Homo sapiens: one gene and its partner. The protein of the gene in region 2 purifies or fractionates together with the protein of the main gene of each other region. This does not show direct contact. Each region holds a gene or a part of one and is shown on either strand. Other genes may lie near its edges.

What was found. Proteins that work in one complex are often made in the same cells at the same time.
Region 1: the proteins of PSD4 (region 2) and GLB1 purify together in Homo sapiens (affinity purification with mass spectrometry; one large-scale study listed by BioGRID and IntAct). This does not show direct contact.

The regions. Positions count from the first base shown.
Region 1 is NC_000003.12:32,999,647-33,003,146, forward strand, and holds part of GLB1 (beta-galactosidase isoform a preproprotein), read right to left. Parts: intron 1-3,500.
Region 2 is NC_000002.12:113,172,536-113,176,770, reverse strand, and holds the start of PSD4 (PH and SEC7 domain-containing protein 4), read right to left. Parts: upstream 2,801-4,235; 5' UTR 2,717-2,800; intron 1,502-2,716; exon of another isoform or gene 1,003-1,501; intron 1-1,002. UniProt on the Homo sapiens protein: Guanine nucleotide exchange factor for ARF6 and ARL14/ARF7. Through ARL14 activation, controls the movement of MHC class II-containing vesicles along the actin cytoskeleton in dendritic cells. Involved in membrane recycling.

The sequences.
Region 1 (3,500 bases), on a different chromosome or scaffold from region 2:
GATTGGGAGGGTGGAGAGAAGCAGCAGCCATTGCTCTGGGGAGGTTATCGTGCAGTGGTGCAATCCTGGCTCGCTGCAGCCTCCGCCTCCACCTCCCAAGTTCAAGAGCTTCTTGTTCCTCCGCCTTCTGAGTAGCTGGGAATACAGGCGTGCACCACCATGCCCAGCTCATTTTTGTATTTTTGGTAGAGATGGGGTTTTGCCATGTTGCCCAGGCTGGTCTCCAACTCCTGGCCTCAAGAGATCCGCCCACCTCGGCCTCCCAAAGTGTTGGGATTACAGGCGTGAGCCACCATGCCTGGCCTTTTTCTTTTTCTTTTTTCCTTTTTGAGGCAAGATCTCACTCCAGACACCCAGGCTAGAATGCAGTGGCACCATCACGACTCACTGTAGTGTCAACCTCCCACCTTAGCCTCCCACATAGCTGGGACTACGGGCATGCCCCACCATGCCTGGCTAATTTTTGTACTTTTTTAGAGATGAGGTTTCGCCATGTTGCCCAGGCTGGTCTCAAACTCCTGGTCTCAAGTGATCCTCCCCCATCAGCCTCCCAAAAAGTGCTGGGATTACAGGCATGAGCCACCTCGCCTGGCCATGCACATGTTTCTTACAGGAGGGGAATGCTAGGAATGGAATTGCTGGGTCATGGGATATGCATGTGTCCAACTTTAGTGATACTATAAAGAGTAGCTATTTTTTAAAAAAGTGTGAAGGAGGAATTGAATTTTCACATTTAATTAATTTAAACTTAACCATATGTGGTTAAAAATGAACGTTCTTGTAAAGAATATTATACAAGGCCAGGTGTGGTGGCTCATGCCTGCAATCCCAGTACTTTGGGAAGCCAAGGCGGGCAAATCACTTGGGGTCAGGAGTTCGAGACCAGCCTGGTCAATATGGTGAAACCCTGTCTCTACTAAAAATACAAAAATTAGCCAGGCATGGTGGTGGGTGCCTGTAATCCCAGCTACTCAGGAGGCTGAGGCAGGGGAATCGCTTGAACCTGGAAGGTGGAGGTTGCAGTGAGCTGAGATTGCACCACTGCACTCCAGCCTGGGTGATAGAGCAAGACTCAGTTAAAAAAAACAACAACAAAACAAACAGAAAAAACCCAACAATATTATACAAGAAGCTACTGCACTGGACTACAGAGCTAAGGTATGGTGAGATCCTAGTGACTTCATTATTAGACCATCAGTCTTCCATTTCTCTCTATCCTCACAGCCTGACTTCCAGAGCAAGTCATAAATCAATGTTGTCTTAGACTGCTGCAGCCTCCTCACAGTCTCTTGACTTTATTAACTCTAGAATCTAGGCTCTGCATAGCTGCCAAAGTGAAAATAGGATTCTTTTCACACATTCCTGTTTCAAACCTCCTTCCTGTGGTCCACAGCCCATACCTTCCTCCTTTCCTCCTTGTGTCTGCCGCACTCCCCCTTGCTCACTCCACTCTCCACTACTTCTTGTTCTTTCCTTCTCTTTCTTCTCCTTCTTGTTCTTCCTTTCTCTCTTCTCTTCTCCTCTCCTCTTCTCCTTCTCCTTCTTCTCTTCTCCTCCTTCCTGTCTTCTCTCTTCTCTCTCTCTCTCTCACTCTTACATCTTGCTACATTGCCAAGGTTGGACTCCAGTTGCTATTCACAGGCACAATACAGCCTCAAACTCCTGCCCTCAAGCGATCCTCCTGCCTCAGCTTCCCGAGAAGCTGGATCTTCAGATGTGCATCACCACACACAGCTCCCCAATTACTTTCAGTTAGTTTTGCTTGGGCATCAGCTCGTCCCCATGTGCAAACACTACTCACCTCAGCCTGAAGCCTTCTCATCACTCAGGCAGGGCCACGACCCTCCTCCTTAATGCTGGGCTTTCCATTCCAAGTCACTCACTATCCTTTCATTTTTTCTTTTTCTTCTAGTTATTATCATGATTTGAAATTCATATCTTTTGTTTGATGACTAGTTTATGAGCTATTTCCAGCTATAACACAGGCTCTAGGAAGGGAAAGTCTTTGTCCATTTTGTTTGAGGCGAGATTCTCCGCACGCAGGAGAGTGATATTCAATATACACTTAGTAGCACTCATGGCTGCTGCTACTTGTTGATAATTCTGCCAAGAAAAGATTCGTTGAAGAGGTGACATGAAGCCCTTCTGAAAGAATTCTTCACGTTCCTCTGCTCCCAGTTTAAGAGTTTTAAAGAATATTGTTCACTAAAAGAAAAACATTTGCCTTCCCTCCTTGATTAGAACCAATGAAAAACACTTTAATATAATTTACCTTTAAAAATTCTATTTAAAAAATATATACATTGATTTTTATTTCTCTTAAAAAGTTATGCTTTTGCAATTATTTTTGGTGGGGAGGTATGCACGTGTTGCTGAATATGATCTAAAAGTAGATACACTCTTAATGAAGTCAGCCCCATGGGGACCAAGCAGTGGTTTCTGGGGCTTCCTAAGGCAGTCTCAGTTAAAATAGTTCCATGACAAAGTGACTTTCTCTGACCACGGCTTGACCCTGGCAGACTCTCCACCCTTTGCTGTAATCACTAAGGCAATAATAATAGTTTCATAAATGTGAGGTTCCTGGAAATGCCTGACCTACTTTTTTGTTGATCAGACAGATACATGTGTTTGTCTGTCTGTTTTAAACTATCTGGATAAATGGAATTTAAAACAAAAGTCTCCCTCCCTCCCTCCCTCCCTCCCTTCCTTCCTTCCTTCCATCCTTCCTTCCTTCCTTATGAGGCAGGGTCTCACGCTGTCATTCAGACTAGACTGCAGCTGCACTATCATAGTCCATTGCAGCCTCGAATTCTTGGGCTTAAGCGATCCTCCTGTGTCAGCCTCTTGAGGAGCTGGGACTATAGGTGTGAAACTATCGGGGGGAGGTATGCACGTGTTGTTGTTAGCCATCATGGCCAGCTAACTTAAAAACTATTTTTAAAAATAGACATAGAATCTCACTATGTTGCCTAGGCTTGTCTCAAACTCCTGGCCTCAAGTGATCCTCCTGCTTTCACCTCCCAAAATGTTGGGATTACAGGTGTGAGCCTCTGTGCCTGGTCTCACTACTGTTTTAAGTTGTAGTTTAAAATTTTCCAAAATTTTTTGGGAGCTCCTTTAAAAGCAACAATAAGCTCAGGGTGAATGCTGCCTTTGTCACACTCTGAAAGAAAACATTTAGACACTTGCAGGACTTAAAATGGGAAAGACAAAGGTCCAGTTCCCAAGGTTAAAGGCTCTCACACACCGAACTCATGAATCACTGTGATGCTTACCTGGGAGAAAGAGAAGAAAAAGAGGAGAATTGAAAAGAAAAAAAGGTAAAAGCCTCTTACAAGGCTTGCTTAGAAATAAGAGGTTAAATAGATCTCAATGAAATACACAGAAGATTAATTCTCCCCTTCCTTCAGAACCCCAAAAGGCTCTGCAGCTGACGCAAATCACACTTTTTTGCTTCCTCCTCAGTCTTAAAGTAATAAAATTAAATAACTTTATGGTTT
Region 2 (4,235 bases):
CTAAAATTTTCTTGGTTTACTTGTGTTTTTCCACCCCTGGTGTTTAGCAAAATCTCTCTTGAAATCTCCTGTCTGTTATCCCAACCAGAACGAAAGCAGAAGGAAAGGAATTCGCAGCAAAGGAATCGCCACCTGTCACATCAGTTGAGTTCTGTTACCTCTACATTAAAGTGGCCCTTCAGTTTTTCTGAGCTCTGAGGTGGCTCTGAAAGTTTAAGGAGGGTTCAGAGGGGAGGGAGCCGAGGTGGGGAAGAGAGAGCACTGCTCCACTCTGCTGCCAACCAGCCACTCTTCTTGAGCACAGCTGACTACATTTCAGAGAATCTTCACCACGGTGGGGAGGGGGTGTATGTTTCTCATGGAGAATACTGCAAGGGCTAAGCCTTATGTCCCTCTTGTGGGAGGTGAAACACACAGAAAGCAATGGCTGAGGGACTAGAAGGCAGAGTCCCTCCCACCTGCCCCACCCCCGGCTTCAAGGCAATTTCTTTTTGACCCAAGGGGGCAGGAAGGAACCCAGCTGACACCTGGCACCCGGACGGTGCTTTCTAACAGTGAGTTTGTTTTTCACCCTCAGCCTGGCATTGCAGCCTTGTACCCTGGCTGAAGAACGGGGAGACCGGGCACAGAGGCTGGGGTATGAGCCTGCCCTGAGTAGGAAGGTGATGGCCTTGGGTGCCCTGCACTGACCACCCTCCTTTGCCCACTTCAGGGTCATAGTGAAGAATGCAGAGCAGAATCCCATCCTAACTCTACAGCTGACAAGCCATGTGGCTCTGGGTGAAAAACTCCACCTGGTTCCTTTTCTGTAAAATAAGGAACCAAGACCCAATAAAGCTATACTTCACAGGTTTGTTGTAAAGTTGGAATGGGTCTGAGTGCTGGGCCTGGCCCTTGGTGGGTGCTCAGGAAATACCGTGTCCTGCTCAGTTTAATTTTGTTGTTTTGCTGTCCATTTAGAGAAGCCAAAATTAACAAAAACAAACAAATAGCCCTCCTGGTCAGGCTCAGCTCTCAGCCTCCTCAAGGAGTCAGCCCTGAACCTTCATCCGGAGGGTGCCTGTCTCTGTTTCCCTTTTTGAGCTTCCAGACTCAGCAAGCAAACGCTCCCTCCTTTTACCCTGGAAATGTTTTCCCTCCTATGGAAAAGGTATGAAGGCTTCTGGCCGGTCCAAGGACTTAGGAGGTGACCTGTCCTGTCCCTCTGCAGCCCGAGAAGCTGCCGAATTACAGATGTTGCTGCAGGCAGGAACCATGAGTGGAACTCCCTGGCCTGGAGCTGCAGGACAGAGGCCTCTGTCTGAACCTGGGGTCTGAAGCACCGTGAGAGAAATGACTCGAGAAGGCCCCACATCCTGCCCACACAGAAAGAGCCATCATGCAAATTTGCACGCACACACACACACACAGAGAGAGAGAGAGAGAGAGAAGACAGTGCTACTGAAGGCCTGTGGTGAGGCCAGCAGAGGCTCAGGAAGGGAGCAGAGGATGGCGGTCTGAGGTAGGCAGAGAGTATCCAGGGGAGAGATCACGGGGGTAGGGACAGAATGACAAAGGGGACCCAGTACAGCTGCTGCCTGGGGAGGACAAAGACCCCTAGGGGGCTGGGGCCAGGCTGGGCCTCTCCTCCCTGGGTCCTCTCACCCCACATCCCTCACCCCTTCTGTGGGTCTCTCCCCCTTCCCCAACAAAGAGCTCAGCAGCCTGTGTTCTGATCCCCATGCTAGGCGGTTCCTTGTCTGTAGGAGGAGGGGGCCACGGGATGCTCTAGAGTCCTAGGCAGCTGGGAGACAGGCCTGCTTGGGGACCACTTTTTAAAGCTGGTCCAAGGTCCAATGAACGGAGGAGTATTTATCATCAGCTAATGACAGGCCACCCTTCCCTGCATTCTAGCAGAGGAGTGACTTCAACTGTGGAATTTTAGGCCCTGGAATAAGGGGGGAATGGCAGTGTCAGGGGACTTTCCCTCCATGCAGCTACCTTCACTATAACAATAATGACTACAGTGGGCCTTAGTTTCCTACACAGGCACACTTTGAGAGTTCAGTGGTTCCTGTTGCCCATCAGGACAACAGGCCTAAGCCAGAGCTAAACCAGTAAGGAGGGTCCCCTTACCTCTCCTCGAGCTTCTCCAGGATGGTCCTGGAAGGCAAGATGAAGCTGGGAGCCCCCTGATGGCCAAGTTGACTCTGAGCTCCTGCAGCAACCACACCCAGAGCCACCCCCACCCCAAACCCAGGCCTTCCAGACTCCCTCTCTCCAGAGTCTAGGGTCGAGAATCACTTGGGACCTTTGGCCACAAAAGCCCCCACTGGGTACTCAGCCAGAGCAGTCACTGGGGACGCAGTGACACTCACAAGAGGATTAGCAAGGAGCTTCCTTCACCCTTCACTATTGCAGACCTCCAGAGGCTCTGCGGGGAGCCAGGGAAGGGAAACAACAGAGGTCCGTGGGGCCAGGGCAGGGAATCAGAGAAGGGTCAGATGAGGAGGGGTAGGCTGAGGGAGGAGGGGGACGGGACACAGAGCAGGAAGGGGGAAGGAGGGGCCTAGCCTAGCCCAGGCTCATGGCAGGTGCACACGGCACTGCCAGAGCCCTCGCCTCTCCCCTGCCCACCTGCCCCAGCCCCTGCCACAAGGACCCACATGTGACTCTCCACATTCCCTGCTCCCACAGGTTCCACCAGCCCCAACCTAGGCAGACCCACTTAGCTCACCTCCAAAGGACCCAAGAATGGATGGCTTGGCCTGGGCTCCCCAAGAGCACTTCCTGGCTCACAGTCGGCTTGCCCAGTGAATGTGGCTGTGACGGCTGGAGCTTCCGACTTCCGCTCCTCCTCACCACAACACACACCCCTCCTGCTCCCCGCCGCCTCCCCAGGGTTCCCTAGCTGCTCAACACCTCACACTTCCTGCCCACAAGATAAGAGCCTCTCTTCCTAGGCCCAGCGCCTGCAGCCCCTTTCCCCATGCCCCTGCTCCTTGGAGGCCCCCACCCTGCACACCAGCCTAGAAAGAACCTGCCATGGTGGAACTGGCCTCTCCCTGCCATGCAGGGGCCTGGGATTGAAAGGGGAAGGGGCCGAGGCCTGGTTGGTAAGCAGGCCCCACCTCCTTCCTCCCTGCGCTTCTGCCCCAGGTTCTCAGTCTTGCTCTGGCTCTTGGTCCCCTGCAGGGCACCCAGTGAGAGACAGGAGGGCCCTAAGTTGGGCAATTTCTGGTTTTAAAACAAATGACATTTCAATTTTTGTGTGACTATGTCTCATGTCACTGGTAATAATGCAAATGATACAATTGCCTTTTAGTTACAAAGTTTCTCCCAATAGTACCTCAATCCCTCCTCACACCTACTTTATGAAGCATTAATAACCCCATCATACAGATCCGGATCTGGAGGCAAGCTCAGAGATGCTAAGCCACTGCCCAGGGTTGCACAGCTGGAAAATTACAAAGCTGGGGTTAGAATACAGAGCCTGTGACTATATGAACCAAGGGACCTCCATTCCCCGTGGCTGAATTCCCAACACACGTCCTCAGGACACCGGCCGCAGTGTCCACAAGTGTAAGTGAGGCTGGTGGGGAGCGCAAACACCATGCCATTCTCCTCCCTCCACACAATCTACTTCCTCAACATCAATGACCGTCAACTTCTCTGCTGAGGCTCCACCACTCCCACCCTCCCTGAACTCTCGTCTTCATGATTCCAGCTGACCCAGAGACTCCCTCACTTGCATGTCCACACAGCAGTGGGGACCAGCCACCCTGACCCAGAGTTGAGAGGGTCGGGCTCTAGCTCACCTACAGCCGCACCCCTCCCTGCAGGGTACAGAGTCCACAGGAACATACCAACATGGAGCCCGTGCACCCTGCTTCTCCACCACACTCTGCGTGCCCCAGATCCCGAGACTCTCCACTTCTGGGGCCCAAATGGCCTCCTCCCCATGTGGGCACACAGCACCGCTGCCCTATGCAGCCTGAGACTGGGTGAAGCGCTGGCAAGAGTCCTGATAGCAGAGACGGGAGCAGGTAGAGAGAGCTCAAACCTTTGGGCAGGTCACCCACCCACATGCACGTGTGATACAGAGCAGGGTGGGGAAGAGAAAGGGAGGTGGAGCTGTGGCGTGGGCCAAAGGCTGGGGTGGGCTGTGCTGTGGCAGCAACATTCAGAGGCGGCTAAGAATCCTCCTTCAAACCTGGAGCTCCAGGCCATGATGAAAGTGGGAGGTAGGAGAATTA